Linked DNA regions of Homo sapiens: region 2 is linked to region 1. The links come from fine-mapping of genetic effects on gene expression. A gene starts in region 1. The other region holds a variant in brackets. All regions are shown on one strand. Distances are from middle to middle.

Evidence for each region. PIP is the estimated chance that this variant, and not a neighbour inherited with it, causes the effect.
Region 2: its variant is fine-mapped to the expression of PDSS2 in whole blood (INTERVAL, PIP above 0.99).

Annotation. Positions count from the first base shown.
Region 1 is chr6:107,454,025-107,463,404 of GRCh38, reverse strand. It overlaps PDSS2 (decaprenyl diphosphate synthase subunit 2), which reads left to right and starts at 3,841. Exons shown (of 8, transcript NM_020381.4): 1 at 3,841-4,415. The coding sequence starts at 4,120. RefSeq lists enhancers at 2,879-3,800, 3,521-3,970.
Region 2 is chr6:107,171,259-107,180,638 of GRCh38, reverse strand. The region is part of intron 7 of PDSS2 (decaprenyl diphosphate synthase subunit 2); the gene reads left to right. Among named protein-coding and RNA genes, the nearest start is that of BEND3, 60 kb to the right of the region's middle. The variant G/C (reference allele first, on the strand shown) is at 4,677.

The DNA.
Region 1 (9,380 bases):
TTGAAATTATTTTGAAAATGTAAAACATATACATGATTCTAAAATCAAAACCATATAGCCAAGGCTTATTCAGAGTAGTCTAGCTTCCACGCCTGTCTCCTCCACCTGTTTCCTCCTATTCCAAATATATGCAAATACTCATTTGTAGTTTAGCTATCTTACAAAAAAAAAGCACATATACTGTTCTGCACTTTGGTTTTTTTTTTTTTTTACACTAATATATATTCGGAGATCATTTCACCTCAGTGTAAAGAAATGGCCCTCGTTCTTTTTCACAGTTGCATAGTTTCATTGTGTAGATCTACTCGAGTTTGTTCAACCAATCTCTTATTTGGGGTTATCTGGATTGTTTCCAATCTTTTGCTATTACAAATAATACTGCAATGAATAACCTTGTGCTTAAGTCATTATTTGGGATATTTTCCTAGAATTGGGTTTCTAGGGCAAAGGGCAATATATATGTAATTTTGCTGAGGATTATCAAATTCCCTTCCATAGCTGCCATGTACCATTTTGCATTCTCAATGGCACTATGTGGCATCTCCATAGCCTGCTAACCAAGTAGGTGGTCAAACTTTTGGATTTTTGCCTCCTTTTATCATCTTTGCCCAAGATACACCACGACGCTTTCATCTGCCTTTGGAAGAACTCTCTCAGGATAAACAATAGGTGATTGTATTGAGGGTGACATAAGGAGGGTGGCTGCAATATCTCTATCTATTTCCACTCACCTAATCATGGAAATGCCAGCGCCCACAGCACTATCCTTGTTAAGAGCTTGTATTTTCCAAGGCTGGCTCGGGTTTCCAGCCAAAGAAAAGGACATCAAATATGACCTTACTTCTTTCTAAGGTCAGTAGAATGCAGAGTGCCCAGTGAGTTCTACTGGTATAAGCTTCAGAATCCTGAAAAAGGTAGAGGAGGAACTGTGATCATTTTTTGTCAGCGTGCTGTCTCCAAAACAACTCCGATGCCAAGGGGAAGTCCCTGAGTGTGGCTGAAAGTTTCCATAGGTTGTGGAGTGACCACTCTCTAACCTGCAGGGCTACTCACACCCAGGACTTCTTTTTTGCTGCTTTGTAGGAGTAAATGTCATGGATGGACACTGTTTTTTTCTTTCAGCATCTCCCATTTCCCAGTGGGCAATTTTGCACTCCAGGGTGACAGACATTTGGTAATGTTTGGAGACATACCTCGTTGTCACAACTTGGAAAGGGGTGCTGCTTAACATCTAGTACGTAGAGGTCAGGAATGCTACTCAACACCGTACAATACTCAGGACTGCCCCCCTTCCCCCAACAAAGAATTATCTGGTCCAAAACGCCAAAAATGCCAAGGCTGAGAAATCCTGCTGTATTCTTTCTTTATGCACACATTCACAGACATCTTTAATATAACTATTATCAGTGGCAGAGGAAGGGCAGAATCACAGATACTCCCCCTCCCTGTTTCTCCAAAAGTCACTAGCAATTCAGAAATTTCTTTAATCATAAAGACTCTAAGGAATTATATATTTATCTGGGAGATTAAAGAACAAATACCATTTTAACCTTCTAAAAACTGATTATCATTAAGTATAATGCAACCTTTTAACTGTAAGTATAAAGGAAAATGCTGATTATTTAAAGTAAATGGGACCCAAAGTCCCATGAATAATCAAAAACTTGGTTAATAGAGTATGACCAGAGAATAATGCACTTGGCTTCTGTGGAGAAATTAAAGTACATGCTGTGAATTGCTATTGAGGAAATTGCGTGAAAAGTTACCCTTAAGGTACCATGAGGCTGAAGAAACAGCCTCAGGTGCACAATATATCACATTAGTCTCTATCTATCTTTGTATTTTCATGACTTCTTTCACCTTGGATAACCCAGAAGCTCTGGCCTTGGAACTTTTTGGAATGGTAAAGTATCTCACTCTCCATATTTATTTTCATCTCCTGGAATGGTAAAGTATCTCACTCTCCATATTTATTTTCATCTCCTAACAGACCTGAATTTTGTTGCCAAGAGTTTATCTCTTTCACAGGAATTATTTTCAAACTTCAGCTTACTTACTTTAAGGGCATAGACTGTGTTTGATACTTATAATCACAATTCATGTTAAATAAAATGTGCCCCTGAAAAGTTACACCTAAACTGAATTTTTGTAAATAAAAAATTTAAATCACAAGGAAAACTTGCCAAAGGGAGAGTATGAAGCTAAATCTTTTGTAGAGAAAATCATCTTGTTTTGCAAAGTGAACAACTACTCTTTAAGTCCCAATCTTTATTTGTAGCTCAAGAGGCTGGTACAGTATTATGCATGATGCTCATTTAAAAAATACTGACAGGCTGGGCATGGTAGCTGGTAGCTCACACCTGTAATCCCAGCACTTTGGGAAGCCGAAGTGGGCGGATCACTCGAGGTCAGGAGTTTGAGACCAGCCTGGTCAACATGGTGAAACCCAGTCTCTACTAAAAATACAAAAGTTAGCCGGGCGTGGTGGCAGGCGCCTGTAGTCCCAGCCACTTGGGAGGCTGAGGCACAAGAATTGCTTGAAACTGGGAGGCGGAGGTTGCAGTGAGCTGAAATCGCGCCGCTGTACTCCAGCTTGGGTGACAGAGCAAGACCCATCTCAAAAAATAAATAAAAAATAAAAATAAAATACCATGAATTTGGAAGGATTTTGAAAGTTTTAGAGAGTTTTATAAGCTATTTTTAAGAGTGTAAAAAATGGATAATATATCCTTTATTAAGAACGGTTAACACCTGTTTTAGGTGATAAGAAAGGAGGTAAGATCTTAGGCACATTTGAAAAAAAAATAGGTAGCATTACTTAAAAGATAATCATATTGACTGTTTCCTCTCAGCAATAAGGAGAAAAGAGTGGATGGGAGCCTATTATTTAGACGGTGTAATCTTTCGGTTAGAATACGGATTCTGAAACCAGATTGTCTGGGCTCACATCCCTGTCTAGTGTGGTCTTAGGGAACTTACGCGACTCGACTGCACCTTAGTTTCCTCATACAAAACACGGAGAATACTAATATTATCTACTTAATGAGGTTGTTCTGAGGATTAAATAAAGTAATACATGAACTAGTACGTGAAAAGCACTCCGGTCAGCGATAGTCTTCAATCCTGGAGTTGAGCTCCAGGCTAGGCATAAAGAGGAAGATAAGAGGCAGGGAGTAGGCAACGTTTCATTCTTCCTCTCCGCACCCGCGGGAAGGAGGCACCGCTGTTTCTCCCAAGGCTCAGCGAGGAGGCCGGTAATTCGAAGTTGGATCCGAGGACTTTCCTTGGGACCCCTTTCCGCCGCACCACGCTGCCTTATGTCTGGTTGGGCCCTGAGGACACGAGGGCTCAGCCCCACGCCCCGACTAGGCGTTCCACCACTGAGACGTGGCCCCAGCTCCAGGAGGCATGCAGCCCGAGAGGCCGCCTTCACGCCCGGCCACGGCCACTGCCACTGCCAGGGGCTGGTGGCGATAGCGACAAAAAGCTTCCGGGAGGAACTGGTGCCTCCGCCCGACGCCCTTCCTTGCGGGCAAGCCGGGGGCTGACCGTTGTTCGTGACACCAATACTTATGCATGCCACTCAGTGCTGGGCGCCGGGGACTCTAATGAATCCAGACTCGGCCCAGATACCGTGTGCAGAGGGACCACTCGCCGCCCACAACTGATCCCTGTCACTGACGACCTTTGCTGGCCCAGAGCGGCGGGGTGGGAGGAGCTGAACCTCCCAACCCGGGTTCACCTCCAAAGCACCGCCCCTGCGGGGGCGTTCTCGGGTACGCCGTAAAGTAGAGAGTATACTTAACAACCCGCCTCTGTCTTTACGGCAGGCCGCATTCCATGCCTCCAATATGGCGTCCTCCACATAGGCAGTGGCTGTGGTTTCTACCCCGGGTGGCCGGGGGCAGTGCTGAGCTGGGACTGTTGTTTGCCCAGCCTGGGCTGCAGAAAGCAGCAGTTAAAGTTCGTTTCTGGTCACTGCTCCAGGAAGCCACCTTACTCTGAGGGTCAAGAATTGCCGCTTCCTTTTAGTTACTGTAAGTTCCTCCTCTGCCCCTGGTTTGTTTCCCGCGGCACTTCTGGATACCCCCAGGTCCCAGACCCTTCCAGACTCAAACCATGAACTTTCGGCAGCTGCTGTTGCACTTGCCACGTTATCTTGGAGCCTCGGGTTCCCCGCGTCGCCTGTGGTGGTCCCCGTCCCTCGACACCATCTCCTCGGTGGGCTCTTGGCGTGGTCGGTCCTCCAAGTCCCCGGCCCACTGGAATCAGGTAGTGTCAGAGGCGGAGAAGATCGTGGGGTACCCCACGTCCTTCATGAGCCTTCGCTGCCTGCTGAGCGACGAGCTCAGCAACATCGCTATGCAGGTGCGGAAGCTGGTGGGCACTCAGCACCCTCTGCTTACCACAGCCAGGTGAGCTACCCCTCTCCCGCTGACACACTCGCACTCATTGGAATACTTTTTTTTCTGGCGGGCATACGCATTCTAGCTCTCTCAGACTGGCTCCTGATTTATCTCTTTTTAGTCCTTCCTTTTTACTCACTCCTCCTAGACATTCCGTGTTGTCTCTTCTCTAGTCCACTTAACGTTCTTGCTCAGCTGAGTGCATAAGTGGTTTTCTTTGAAACACTTGTATGCTTTCCTCGATTTTGCTTCTTAATTGTTGAGGATGAAGATGCCTCAGTGATTTGTGGAGAAATCGAGCGGAGATGTAGGTTTATTGAGTCACTTCCTAGAAATTTTTTTTTTTTTTAATGGGATAGATTAATTTTCTGTCCCGCACTGTTCAGGGGGTCACCTCCAGAAAGTAGGCAAGGAGAGAGAGAGAGGCTGAAGGTAGATAATTCTTTCCAACGAATGTCTTGGGGTTGAAGTAGGAATTTATCCCGTTAGTAGTCATTATCTTCTTGGGATGTTTATCACTTATGCTGTACTACTGCTGTGAAACCTGCCTTTAGGATTTATAAAAGTTTTTTTTTTTTTTTTTTTTGAGACGGAGTCTCGCTTTGTCGCCCAGGCGGGAGTAGCTGGGACTACAGGTGCCCGCCACCACGTCCGGCTAATTTTGTTTTTGTATTTTTAGTAGATACGGGGTTTCACCGTGTTAGCCAGGATCGTCTCAATCTCCTGACCTCGTGATCCACCCGCCTCGGCCTCCCAAAGTGCTGGGATTACAGGCGTGAGCCACCGTGCCCGGCCAAAAGTTTTTTTTTTTTCTTCCACTTAAACCCCACACCTGAATTGTAATTAGTTTAAACATACAGCGAAGTTACAAAAATAATATAGTTCAAAGAACACACTTGCATACTCTTTAATCAGATCCACCTGCTACGTAGATATGTCTATATATGTCAATATATACATTAAATACATATACACACAGATATATATACTATTCACGTGTATATATCTTTCTATATATTTTTTTCTGAATCATTTGATGGTAGATTGCATACATCACGATCCTTTTCCCCTAAATACTTCAGTATGTATTTCCTAAGCATAGCAGTAATCTCCTACGTAAGTACGCTACAGTTACCAACTTAGGTATATTTAATATTGATACAATACTTTTATTTAATCTACCATTTAATTTCAATTTTGTTAATTGGCCTAATAATGTTCTTTATAGCATTCTTTACCCTCCAGGACAGGATTCAGTCCAGGATCAAGTATTGCGTTTAGTTGTTATATCTCTTTCATCTTCTTCAATTAGGAACATTTTCATATCTCTTCTTGGCTTTTATGACTAGAGCACTGGTTCTCAACTGGGGCAATTTTCCCCCCCTGAGGACATTTGGCATGTATGGAGACATTTTTGGTTGTCACGAATGGAGGCACATTACTGGCATTTAGTGGATAGAGGCCAGGGATGCTACCCTTCAATTCCCAGGACAGACCCACAAGAAATAATTAGGTGCTGCAAAATGTCAGTAGTGCCAAGGTGGAGAAATCCAGGACTAAAAGGACCTTTTTCTATTGTTGTTTTTAAAAGTAAACTTCTATTTTGAAGTAGTTTTAGATTTACATGCAGTTGGAAGAAATAACACAAATCTAATATACACCTAACCCTGTTTCTCCCAATGGTAACATCTTTTGAAACGATGGTGTAATATCATAAGCAGGGTATTTATGTTGATACAGTTAAGATAAAGAACATATTCAGCACTATAAGGATTCCTCATGTTGCTTTTTTAGCCACACTCACTTCCCTTACCCACCCCTTGCTTTAATTTTTCGAGGCACCTGTCATTTTCTTACTACAAAAGTTATCAAATAGTAATAATAAAGTGATTTTATTCCTTGGCATCGTTCCCAGTTATCAGGAATGTCACCTTATGATTAGCTGGAATGTTAGTTTTCCAGAGATTCTAGATGATACACACTCAAAACACATACACATATGTTTAAAGCTTAATGAAACGAATAAGCCTACTATTACCCAACTTAAGAATTGTAACTTTACCAGTCCTGTTGAAGCTAAATGTGTACTCCTCAGTCCATCTCCCTGACTCCCACTAAACTGTTTTTAAACACTTTTCCTTTTCAAAATTACCAGGGGTCCTGGTGTGGTGTCTCATGTCTGTGATCCCAGCACTTTGGGAGGCAAAGTAGAAAGATTGCTTGAGCCCAGGAGTTCGAGACCAGCCTGGGCAACATAGCAAAACCCTATCTCTACAAAAAATAAAATAAATTAGTTGGGCGTGGGGATGCACATCTGTAGTCCCAGCTGCTTGGGAGGATTGCGATTGCTTGAGCTGGGAGGTCAAGGCTGTTGTGAGCCGTGATTGTGCCACTGCACACCTGTCTGGGCAAGAGACCCTGTCTCAAAATAAAATGAAATAAGTAAAATTACATTGTTATTTTTCTAAATAATAATGTTTCATTTTACTGGTTTCTTTGCAATGTACAAATATGATAGTTTATTGCATATGACCTTATGTGACTTCCTTTTTAAAATTCATGGTTTCTGAGATTCATCCATGTTGTGTGTTTAACTGTAGTTCATTAGGTTTTTACTGTGTGTGAAATTCTGTTGTGTGAATATACCATAGTCATCTTTTGTTTGTTTATTTATTTTCAGACAGAGTTTCACTCTTGTTGCCCAGGCTGGAGTGCAGTGGCACAGTCTCGGCTCACTGCAGCTTCCACCTCCCGGGTTCAAGTAATTCTCCTGCCTCAGCCCCCCAAGTACCTGGGATTATAGGCGCCCGCCACCATGCCTGGCTAATTTTTGTATTTTTAGTAGGGACAGGGTTTCACCATATTGGCCAGGCTAGTCTTGAACTCCTGACCTCGTGATCTGCCCACCTCAGCCTCCCAAAGTGCCGGGATTATAGGCGTGAGCCACCACGCCGGGCCTCACAGTCATCTTGTAATTAACATTTGGGTTGTTGCATTTGTTAATATTATGAAAAATGCTGTTATAAATATGTTTGCATATCTTTTGGTGTTCATGTCACGAGGATATAAAAACAAGAGCGTAATTGTTGGATGTGCACATGTTTATCTTTAGAATGCTTTCTAAAGTGAATGTACCAGTTTATACTCTCATAAACAACTTCTGAGTTCAGGTTACTCCTAGTTCTCATAACACTAGAACTAAGAGATTTCTTAAGTTTTTTTTTTTTTTTTTTTTTTTTTTTTTGAGACAGAGTCTCGCTCTATCGCCAGGCTGGAGTGCCCAGTGGCCTGATCTCGGCTCACTGCAACCTCTGACACCCTGGTTCAAGCAATTCTCCTGCCTCAGCCTCCCCAGTAACTGGGATTGCAGGCATGTGCCACCACGCCCAGCTAATTTTTGTATTTTTAGTAGAGAAGGGGTTTCACCATGTTGGCCACGATGGTCTCTAGCTCCTGCCCTCATGATCTGCCCACCTCCGCCTCCCAACGTATTGGAATTACAGGCATGAGCCACTGCGCCTGGCCCAGATTTCTTAGTTTTTGGTAATCCAGAAGGAGGTTTCTTTGTGTTTGATGGAAATGATAGTGTCAATGATAGGGGCTGTAGTATTGCATTATGAGTATTGTAGTCCATCATAAAGCACAGAAGTGAAAAGGGTGAAGCTAAAAAGAGCCTTATTAATGTGTATATTCTGAGAACCGTAGTTCGTCTACTTAGTTGCAATAGCATCAGATGAGGGTTTGGAGAAGATCTCTTCAGAGGCCACCAGAGGCATCCTAGATGAAAGTTTGTGAGACTAATGGTTCTGAAACTTTCCTAATTGTTGCCTAACCTGCCTTGTAGTACTATAGTACAGTGACAGAACTGGAAAGGCACAGAATAAGTAAGTTTTTGCAAAGTTGTCCTAGCATGTATGTGTTGCTGTATTTTGTAAGAAAAGAAAGAGCTAATCTGCATATAATTTTATTCTATTTACTACAATAATGTGTTGCAAATTATTTAAACAGCCTAAACTCATAGACAGCCAATGAAGAAACTTTTGGGGTGTGGATATGTATCTGTATATATTTGTATATACACTGTACACAGTTATTTCAGCAAAGGAGCAGGCATTTGATCCAGAGGTTAAGCAGGTAATGATTATTGTAAATTATAACTAAAATCAAGGATTAAGCAGCTGTATTTTTTTTGTTTTTTTATTTTTATTTTTTTGAGGCAGAGTCTTGCTCTGTTGCCCAGGCTGGAGCCATTTACTTTTCGAATAAAGCTACATGGTATGTTAGGGGTGAATCATGTCTAATAGCCCTAAAGTTTACGTGAATGGTGACTTTGTTAGCAAACAGCAGGAAAAAAAAAAAGGAAACCACCATAATTTGCTATTCACTGATCTCTTTACCTAAGACATCTTGTCAAGAAAAGGGAAAAACAGCCTAGATGTGACATATATTCTTTAACACTAAATGAGAAATGAGGTTAAAAATCTTGAGGTTTGGTGAGATAATGATTCTGTTACTAGGAATAGAGGAGCATTTAGCTCATTGTTACTCTTGTTCATCTAGATTTTCTAGGATCTCTCTGTTGTAAACTATAATTAGATAAATAATTAATTAAATGTTTATTGAAACTTATGAAGTGATATAAAGAAGTCTAGACCAGGTGTGGTGGTTCACACCTGCAATCCCAGAACTTTGGGAGGCCAAGGTAGGCAGATTGCTTGAGCTCAGGAGTTTGAGACCAACCTGGGCAACATGGTGAAACCCCATCTCTACAAAAAATACCAAAAATTATCCGGGTTGCTGGTGCATGCCTGCAGTCTTAGCTACATGGGAGGCTGAGCTGAGAGGATACCTTAAGCCCAGGAGGTCGAGGCTGCAGTAAGCTGTGGTCGTGCCACTGTGCTCCATCCTGGGCAATGGAGTGATACCTTGTCTCAAAAAAAAAAAAAAAAAAGAAGTCTGAAACATGGACCCTGT
Region 2 (9,380 bases), 280 kb after region 1:
GGAATGGTGTCTTGAGTTTGCTCACCATTGCACCGTGAAAGCCTACTACAGCACCTGGTGCAGGATAGGTACCCAATAAATATTTGTTGACTGACTGTCGAATGAATGAATGAATGATGACCCAAGATACTGCGCGTTTTTGCCTAACCTCTGTTCTTCTAATTCATAAGGAATATTTAATTCCACCTTTGTTCCTCTTATATCCCCCCAAGTATATTTTTAATCAAATGATTACATCCTCAATGCCTCTCACCCCCTGGGTTGAGGCAGAGAGATTCAATTGGGGTAATCTTTTGAGTCTTATCTGGAAAGCTAACTAGAAATGCCCTTCAGGCTGGCTCTGCGGGTGGATGCTCTGCACTGTGGGATAGCTGGATTCAATTATTGCTCCCAGTTTGTGGTGTCAGAAGCCACCTGTGCACCAGGAGAGCCTGTATGTCTTTATGTCGAAGATAGAGCCCTCTGTCCCTATAGAAAAGCCTGTTTAGTCCATTAAAACTGTTTTAAAGTGGATCTGAAGGGAACACTATCTCTTTCCTTGTCATAAAATATAGTGGAGAGGCATGGGTTTCCCAAAATTATGGTTTTTGAGTGAAAAGAGAGGCACCTCTGTATAGATACTGAACGTAGTTTTAGTAAGTTAGAAGATATCGTTACCTAGATTCATATTTCCACAGTCATACACTAATCCTGCTGTCGGATTTTGTGTTGAATTAAGAATTTTTGTGATTTGAAGCTGTTTGAGCCATCAGAAAGCTGTAGTTGATTCAGTTGGTACATCTGAAGCCATTCCTCTATATTTCCTATGCAGTGTCTCCAAGCACTACTCAGCCTCCCCACTTACCACATCAGAGTATTGATCCCTGATAATGTACTTAACCATCTTTCCTGAAATAACAAGGTGGCTATGTCCCTCAGTTTTCAAACAGAATTACTTAGGTAACAGTAGAGATCATGGGACCTGCAGCATAGCTCAGTGAAGTGTGAAATGTTACTAAAGATTGTAGGTGAGTAGATTCTGTCCTTTTCCCCCGAGTCCTTGACATTCTGGCTTGATGAAAGATCTTAGCTAAGGCCGGATGCTGTGGCTCACTCCTGTAAGAAGGCCGAGGCGGGCGAATCACGAGGCCAGGAGTTTGAGACCAGCCTGACCAACATGGTGAAACCCCGTCTCTACTAAAAATACAATAATTAGCTAGGCGTAATGGCGGGCACCTATAATCCCAGCTATTCAGGAGGCAGAGGCAGGAGAATCGCTTGAACCCGGGAGGCAGAGGCAGCAGTGAGCTGAGATCACACCACTGCACTCCAGCCTGGGCAACAATGTGAAACTCCATCTAAAAAAAAAAAGAAGAAGAAGGATCTTAACTAAATCATAATAAAACCAAAGCTGTACCTCTGAAGATTGATTAGTGTGTAGCGCAATGGTGCCCCCTGTGGAAGATCTCCCTATCCTGGATCTAAGAAGATTATGCTAACCTGTATCTTTAATTGATTCCTAAGATTTGTGTGCAGCTGTCAGAAAAATGGGTAGACCTTTCTATGTGCTGTACTTTCTTTAAGATGCATGCCATTGTATGCGTGCTTTGCAGCGTACACTGTTTAAGACACACACTAAACACCTTAATCAAATGGTTCTATCGAATTCTGTGAATCCCCTCTTTTTATAGAGAAGAGCTCAAATAACCTAACAGTGTCCACACAATTATCTCACAGGGTCAAGATTCTACTCAGGTCTGCTGACTTCACAATGTGTATTCTCTTTTGTTATTTGTTTTTTTTAAGAGACAGGGTTTCACTATGTTGGCCAGGCTGGCCTCGAACTCCTGTCCTCAAGTGATCCGCCCACCTCAGCCTCCCAAAGTGCTGGGATTACAGATGTGAGCCACTTCGCCCAGCAGCAGTGTGTATTCTTTACCACCATCCTGCTTCTCAAAGTGCTTTAGACATACTACAAAAAGTTGTTGTTGTATTCAGGCTCTGATCTTGCAAGCATCCAGAAAACGGTGTGTATTAGTCTATAATCTAACATAATTCTGGTCTCAGAAATGTGATTGTCTAATAAATGACTGTGCTAGGATTTATGTTTGCTGAACCAGTGTAATAATTATTGTGACTTTAAGCTGATAAGCATGCTTCACTTTTGAAAAGAAAGTTTTATAGATAATAACCATTTAAAACAAACTCTGATCATCATTCTCTTGAAAGAGGCACAATCTAAGTTAACAAATACACCTTCCATAACACCATAGCGTAGAGACCTCCTACATTTGGAAGAGCTGTTAATCTTGCAGATATGATTACACTTACATGGCACAGAGTAAATATACATTCTTCACCTCATACATTGGCCCCCACACTGATGCAACCTACCTAGAAGACGTGGCTGAAGCCTACATTTATTTCATTAATAAATGTAGATAGAATTTCTCTGTCGTTTGAGGTGCTTTCTTGTGAAATTATAAATGTGTTTTAAACTCATCTTATATCAGGATGTATTTTAGGATGCTAGGAATCTAGGATCACATGGATGATGATAGTGGTAGTTTGGGGCAAGTGGTCCCTAGGTATCAGCATCCAAATACTAAAGCACATGAAAATTGGAACATGAGAAGGATATAAGAAATGTATAAGTAAGATAGGGATTCAAGTAAAATAACAGAAACCGAAACTCACTCTTAACATAGTTTATATATTCCTCAAATACCCCCAGGACTATTTGATTCCTACATGATGTGAATGCTCTCATCCCACAGTATTCTTTTTAATTAAATAACCAGCTTAGTATTTGTCATGAGATTACAGAGCTTACTATTTATTGATTCACTCCTAAAAAAGCTACAGGCAAGAGTGGCTCATTGCTGCAGTCTACAGCCTATGACATGTTTTGCTTGTTGAATTTCTATTACAGAGTTTGCTAAAAAGCTTTACAGTCCCAGTTTTGCTTTTGAATTTCAATGTGTAGAATTAAGTTTCTCTTTGGAATATGATACTAAAATTAAAAATTAACTTTGAATCAGAATATGGATAAATCCATGATTATTTATAAATCACCAAATATTCCTTTGGAAGACATGACAACCAAGAGGCAGTGATTGCTTTTCCTGTGAAATTAATCCTAAATGTAATATAATTCTATATTACTAACCTCAAATGCCAAACCTATCAAATGTTGATGCAAGTTTATAAATTAAGAATTACAGGCTGCGCATGGTGGCTCACGCCTGTAATCCCAGCAATTTGGGAAGCCAAGGCGGGCGGATCACCTGGGATCAGGAGTTTGAGTTTGAGACCAGCCTGACCAACATGGCAAAACCCCGTCTCTACTAAAAATACAAAAATTAGCCAGGCACAGTGGCACATGCCTGTAATCTCAGCTACTCGGGAGGCTGAGGCACAAGAATCACTTGAACCCGAGAGGCAGAGGTTGCAGTGAGCCAAGATTGCAACACTGCACTCCAGCCTGAGTGAGAGTGAGACCCTGTCTCCCAAAAAAAAAAAAAAAAAGAATTACATTACGTGTTTCAGCAGATACATGTAAAGAAAATAGAAAAAAAAAAAAGAATTACTTCGTCCATTTTGTCTCATTTAATTACATTTTGAGAGCAGGCATGTCTGCTCATACCCTGAAATGCAGGTTTTTTTGGTTTTTTTTTGAGACAGGGTCTCACTCTGTCATCCAAATTGACCTTCACTCCTTGACATAGCAAGCACTACTTTGTCTCAGTTCTTCTCTGCCATTCTGTCAACAATTAGGTCAATTTTAAGTGTACCAGTAAAATTATTTAAACTATATATAAATACCTCTAAACCATATAAACATGTTTATATGATGTAGATATATTTTATATCATATAAATGTATCCCTACCATATGGTTTAGGAGTATTTATACATATACAGTAGTATGGTTATATCTGTTCAGTTATGATAATTTGTACGAAATGAGCTGTTGCGTTGTGTTCAGCTCTTTGTGGATGGCAGGCCACAGCGTGAACTCACAAACGTACTTAGCAGAGAGGTTGAGCCTTGAAATAAGTTCTGAAGTCTCACTCCCAACAGGAGGCTGCATACCATCCAGACTAAGCATAATAGCCATACAGTTTTAAATTAGAAAACAGTAAAATTGATAAACGTGGAGGACAGGGCAAGAAAAACTATACTAAACATGCTTTTATATTTGTGTGTGTGTGTGTGTGTGTGTGTGTGTATGTGTGTGTGTGTGTTAAGGGGGAATAGAATACATTTTAAATAGTCAATATGATTTGGGAATTCATTTTTCAAAAATAGACATGTTTTGGCCGGGCGCAGGGGCTCAACCTGTAATCCCAGTACTTTGGAAGACTGAGGCCGGCAGATCACCTGAGGTCGGGAGTTTGAGATCAGCCTGGCCAACATGGTGAAACCCCGTCTCTACTAAAAATACAAAAATTAGCTGAGTGTGGTGGCGCTTACCTATAATCCCAGCTACTGGGGAGGCTGAGGCAGAAGAATCACTTGAACCCGAGAGGTGGAGTTTGCAGTGAGCTGAGATTGTGCCATTGCATTCCAGCCTGGGAGACAGAATGAGACTCTATCTCAATAAATAAATAAATAAATAAATAAAAGCAGTGAAAATAACCTGGGGCAATATTTGGTATTGTCACTGCATGAAACCACAAATACCACTACTGCAGT[G/C]AGTGCCTTTGGTTGATAATTTTAATAAAAATAAGTTTTGGTTAGTTAAGGATTTAAGTAAAAATATACTAGTTTTGTTTTGTGACTCAGTGGCGGATGAGATAATACCTGTCTTGCTCAGTGCCTTTAGGTTTAACAACAACAACAAAAAAGTATGACCAGAAGAATATACTTAATCAATTGAGATATGCATGACCTTTTTCTTAGCAGAAAATGTGGAAAATTTCTACCTCCAATTTCTACTGACATTTGTTCTACAACCATATGGCATTTTTAGGTTGGTGGAAAATATATATGTGTTGCAGTAGAGGTACATAATTAAATAATGGCTTCAATTTTCTGCAATCTCTATAAATATGGCTTTATCATAAGCTATTTGACTGGAGGTATTTTTTTTCTAATCTGTGATATGTATCTTTTAAAAAATCTGTCCTTGTACATAGGCATGCAAAGGACATTAGCGATATAGGTATGTGTTATGTTCTCAAATGAAATTGTAATGCTTTCTGGTTTGTTTAAGAGTGAAAGAAAGGGACTATAGCATATTGGTTAAGAACAAGAACTCATCTTGACTCCAGCACTTATCATCTGTGTTACTTTGGACAACTTGCTCTTACCTAAATTTGTTCCTTTGTAAAATGAAAATAATAGTAGCATCTACCTCGTAGGGCTGTTGTGAGGGTAGAAGATAGATATAGGTATAGATACAGATAGAGCGAGAGAGAGAGAGATCTTTTTTTTTTTTTTTCCTGAGATGGAGTCTCACTCTGTCGCCCAGGCTGGAGTGCAATGGCACCATCTCAGCTCACTGCAACCTCCACCTCCCAGGTTCAAGCAATTCTCCTGCCTCAGCCTCCCGAGTAGCTGGGATTACAGGCGTGTGCCAGCATGCCTGGCTAATTTTTGTATTTTTAGTAGAAACAGGTTTCACCATGTTGGCCAGGCTGGTCTTGAACTCCTGACGTCATGATCCACCCACCTTGGCCTCCCAAAGTGCTGGGATTCCTGGCGTGAACCACCACACCTGGCCAAGAGAGAGATCTTAGAACAGTGCTGGGCACACAGTAAGTACTATATATGAGATTGTCTTTATTGTCATTGCTGTTATTATTATTGCTTTTCTAATATTGGGAAACACTACTATTCTTACTGTATTTTTGCATGTGAATCTCATATGATTGAGAAATCTATTTAAAATTCTCTTTGTCTCTTTCTAGTTTTGTCAGATTAAGATGTTTAATTAAGATCGGTGAATTTTTTTTCCTATAGACTCTTGCAAATAATTTCTAACTCTGAGTAAAAAGGAATGCTTTTATGTTGTTTGCAATGCATTTCACAGTTTATTGTATTAGAAAACTGTAGCTTTTCCTTTTGTACCAAGTCTTGCCACTCAGAAGCTGTCAAGACCTTTCAGTTAAGCACTATCAGCTAGAATCTTGGGCTTGGGTAGACCTTTAGAGGCAGCGTCGTCCTATCTTTCACACTGGCGAAGAGTTTCAGTCATATTTTCTCCTACATGTGGTCATCCAGTCACTGAAGGCTTCCAATAATAGGGAACCCACAGCTTGTCAAAAATAATCATTCTGTTGTTAGACAACTCTAGTCATTTGAAGGTTCTTTTCTTATTTATAAGTGGAATCTTCTTCCGAGAAACTTTACCTTGTTGCTGTTTGTTCTGTCCCCTGAAGCACATAGAACAGGACTGTTCCTTCTTCCATTTAATTACTTCAGATATTTGAAGATGGCTTTTATATCCTCCCTTCCTCCAGGTTAAACATTCCCTAGGTGACATGTTTCCAAATCCTTCTTCATCCTAATACTGGACCCAATCTATCATGCCAGTGCCCCTCTTGACTCATGGCCCCCAGGACTGAAAATAGTTTTCTAAACATTAGTTGACCGTCCGTGTGCTGTGAGACCATTCCTGCCTGTGTTTTGGACATGTACACCTGCTGATGCTGCCAAAGTTTGCATTTGCATTTTTTTGTACCTACATCACAGCCTTGGCTGATACCAAGACTGTGGTTATTAAAGATTCTCAACATTTTTCATGAGTCACTGCCAAATTGCAGCTTATACTTTTACAATTAATTTTTGAAACCTAAATATACAACTATATAATTATCCCTGTTAGATTTTACTGGCTACTATCAGTCTTTTGTTCAACATGTCAATACCGTTAAAATTTTGATACTATCCATGTGTTACCTATCTCTCTTGGCTGTGTGACATCTGAAAATTAAAATTTAATATGCATTTCTTCTTCATCTTCATTCAAGTAATGCATAGAAACGTGATAAGAAGAAGAAACCAAGCATTAAGTTCTGGTAGCATGACACTAGAGACTGCTTTCCTGTTCTAAGCGTTTTTTTTTTTTTTTTTTTTTTTTTGAGACAGAGTCTCATTCCATCACCAGGCTGGAGTGCAGTGGCGCGATCTCGGCTCACTGCAACCTCTGCTTCCCAGGTTGAAGCAATTCTCCTGCCTCAGCCTCCCGAGTAGCTGGGACTACAGGTGTGCACCACCACGCCCAACTAATTTTTGTATTTTTAGTAGAGACAGGGTTTCACCATGTTGGCGAGGATGGTCTCAATCTCGTGACCTCAGGTGATCCGCCCGCCTCGGCCTCCCAAAATGCTGGGATTACAGCTGTGAGCCACCGCGCCTGGCCTGTTTTCCTGTTCAATATAAATCCACTACTAAACATTTCCTAGGAATAATTATTTTACATGTTCAAATCTATCTTACCATACTGTGACCTGTACCCTGTTTCTCTGCCTTATTCATGAAGGACTAAACTTCAAAAATCCAAAGTTACTCTATCTTTTTTTTTTTTTTTTGAGACAGAGTCTCGCTCTGTTGCCAGGTTGGAGTGCAGTGGCACAATCTCAGGTCACTGCAACTTCCGCCTCCTGGGTTCAAGCGATTCTCCCGCCTCAGCCTCCCCAGTAGCTGGGACAACAGGTGCACGCCACCACACCCAGCTAATTTTTGTATTTTTAGTAGGGAAGGGGTTTCACCATGTTGGCCAGGCTGGTCTCGAACTCCTGACCTCGTGATCTGCCTGCCTCGGCCTCCCAAAGTGCTGGGATTTCAAGCGTGAGCTGCCGTGCCCAGCCACTCTATCCTATTTCTGAAGCTACCAGCCAAGTGGCCACATTTTAAAAAAAAAAGAAGAAGAAAAAAAAAAAGAATGTGTGTGTGTGTGTTTTATTATGACTTGCTTATTGTGACCCACTTATCCTGGGGCTGCCACCACCATTGCCTTTTTTTCTAGAGCCCACAAACCATCTGTTTAACAACCCTTTTTGAAGTTTTGCCATAAATTCTCCATAAATTCACTGGTCTGTGTTTCAGAATGCTCCTTTGTCCTCTTTTTTAAAATTATTATTTATTTATGTATTTTGAGACGGAGTTTCACTCTTGTTGCCTTGACTCAAGTGCAATGGCGCAATGTCAGCTCACTGCAACCTCTGCCTCCCAGGTTCAAGTGATTCTCCTGCCTCAGCCTCCCAAAGTGCTAGGATTACAGGTGTGAGCCACCATTCCTGGCCTCTCCTAAGTCTTAAAGTCTTTCTCTAGTTTCCTTGGGCAGAAGTGGCTGCTGCCTCCACTTCTCCTAAGACTACTCAGAACCCATGCCGGGGCCTTCTCTTTAATATTTTAAAAGAACTTTTAGAACTTTTGAACTACATAGTTTTCAGAGACATACAGTGATTTTCTCAAGAGGGTCTTTTATGTAAGAGCAACATGTATCATTCAAAAGGTGTTTAATAAATGTTAAATAATAATGCACTTAATTTTAAGTACTTTGTATCCTCTTCTCTCTTTGTTAATATCTTTAATTGGATCCCCTAGCAGGGGATTTGGACTTAATTTATTTCAGGTGATACTGCACTTATACAATTATTTAGTTGACTTAATTAGAGATTTAATTATATTAGTGCCCTAAAGTGCTATATCAGAGAAATTAAACACTGACTGTTAATTCACCTTTCGTATTTATTGTGCTGTTTATGACTACAGCGATCTTCAAGCCATAAGGGCTTGAAGATTTGGAAAGTTCTTTCTATGCATCAGCTTGGACTTTGCCCATTCAAAATGTAGATGAAGGCAGGAATGGAAATGCCTTTTTTAGGCTGAGTGCAGTGCCTCACGCCTGTAATCCCAGCTCCTTGGGAGGCCGAGATGGAAAGATCACTTAAGGCCAGGAATTCAAGACCAGCCTGGGCAACATGATGAGACCACCCGCCATGCTCATGTCCACAGAATAAAAATAAATAAATTAGCCAGGCATGGTGATGCATGCCTATAGCCCTAGCTACTCGGAAGGCTAAGGTGGGAAGATTGCTTGAGGCTGGAATTTGAGGCTGTGGTGAGCTTTGATCATACCACTGCACTCCAGCCTAGGTGATGGAGTGAGACGCTGTCTCAAAAAGAAAAAAAAAGAACTTGAAAAAAATTGTGGTCTTTTATCTATGGCTATTAGAACCAAGATCATGGACGGTTGTGATGGTTCACACCTGTTACCTAGCACTTTGGGAGGCTGAGGCAGGAGGATCATTTGATCCCAGGAGTTTAAGATCAGCCTCTGGGCAACATGGCAAAACCCATCTCTACAAAAAATACAAAAATTAGCCAGGCATGGTGGCACGTGCCTGTAGTGCCAGCTACTCAGGAGGCTAAAGTGAGAGGATGGCTCAA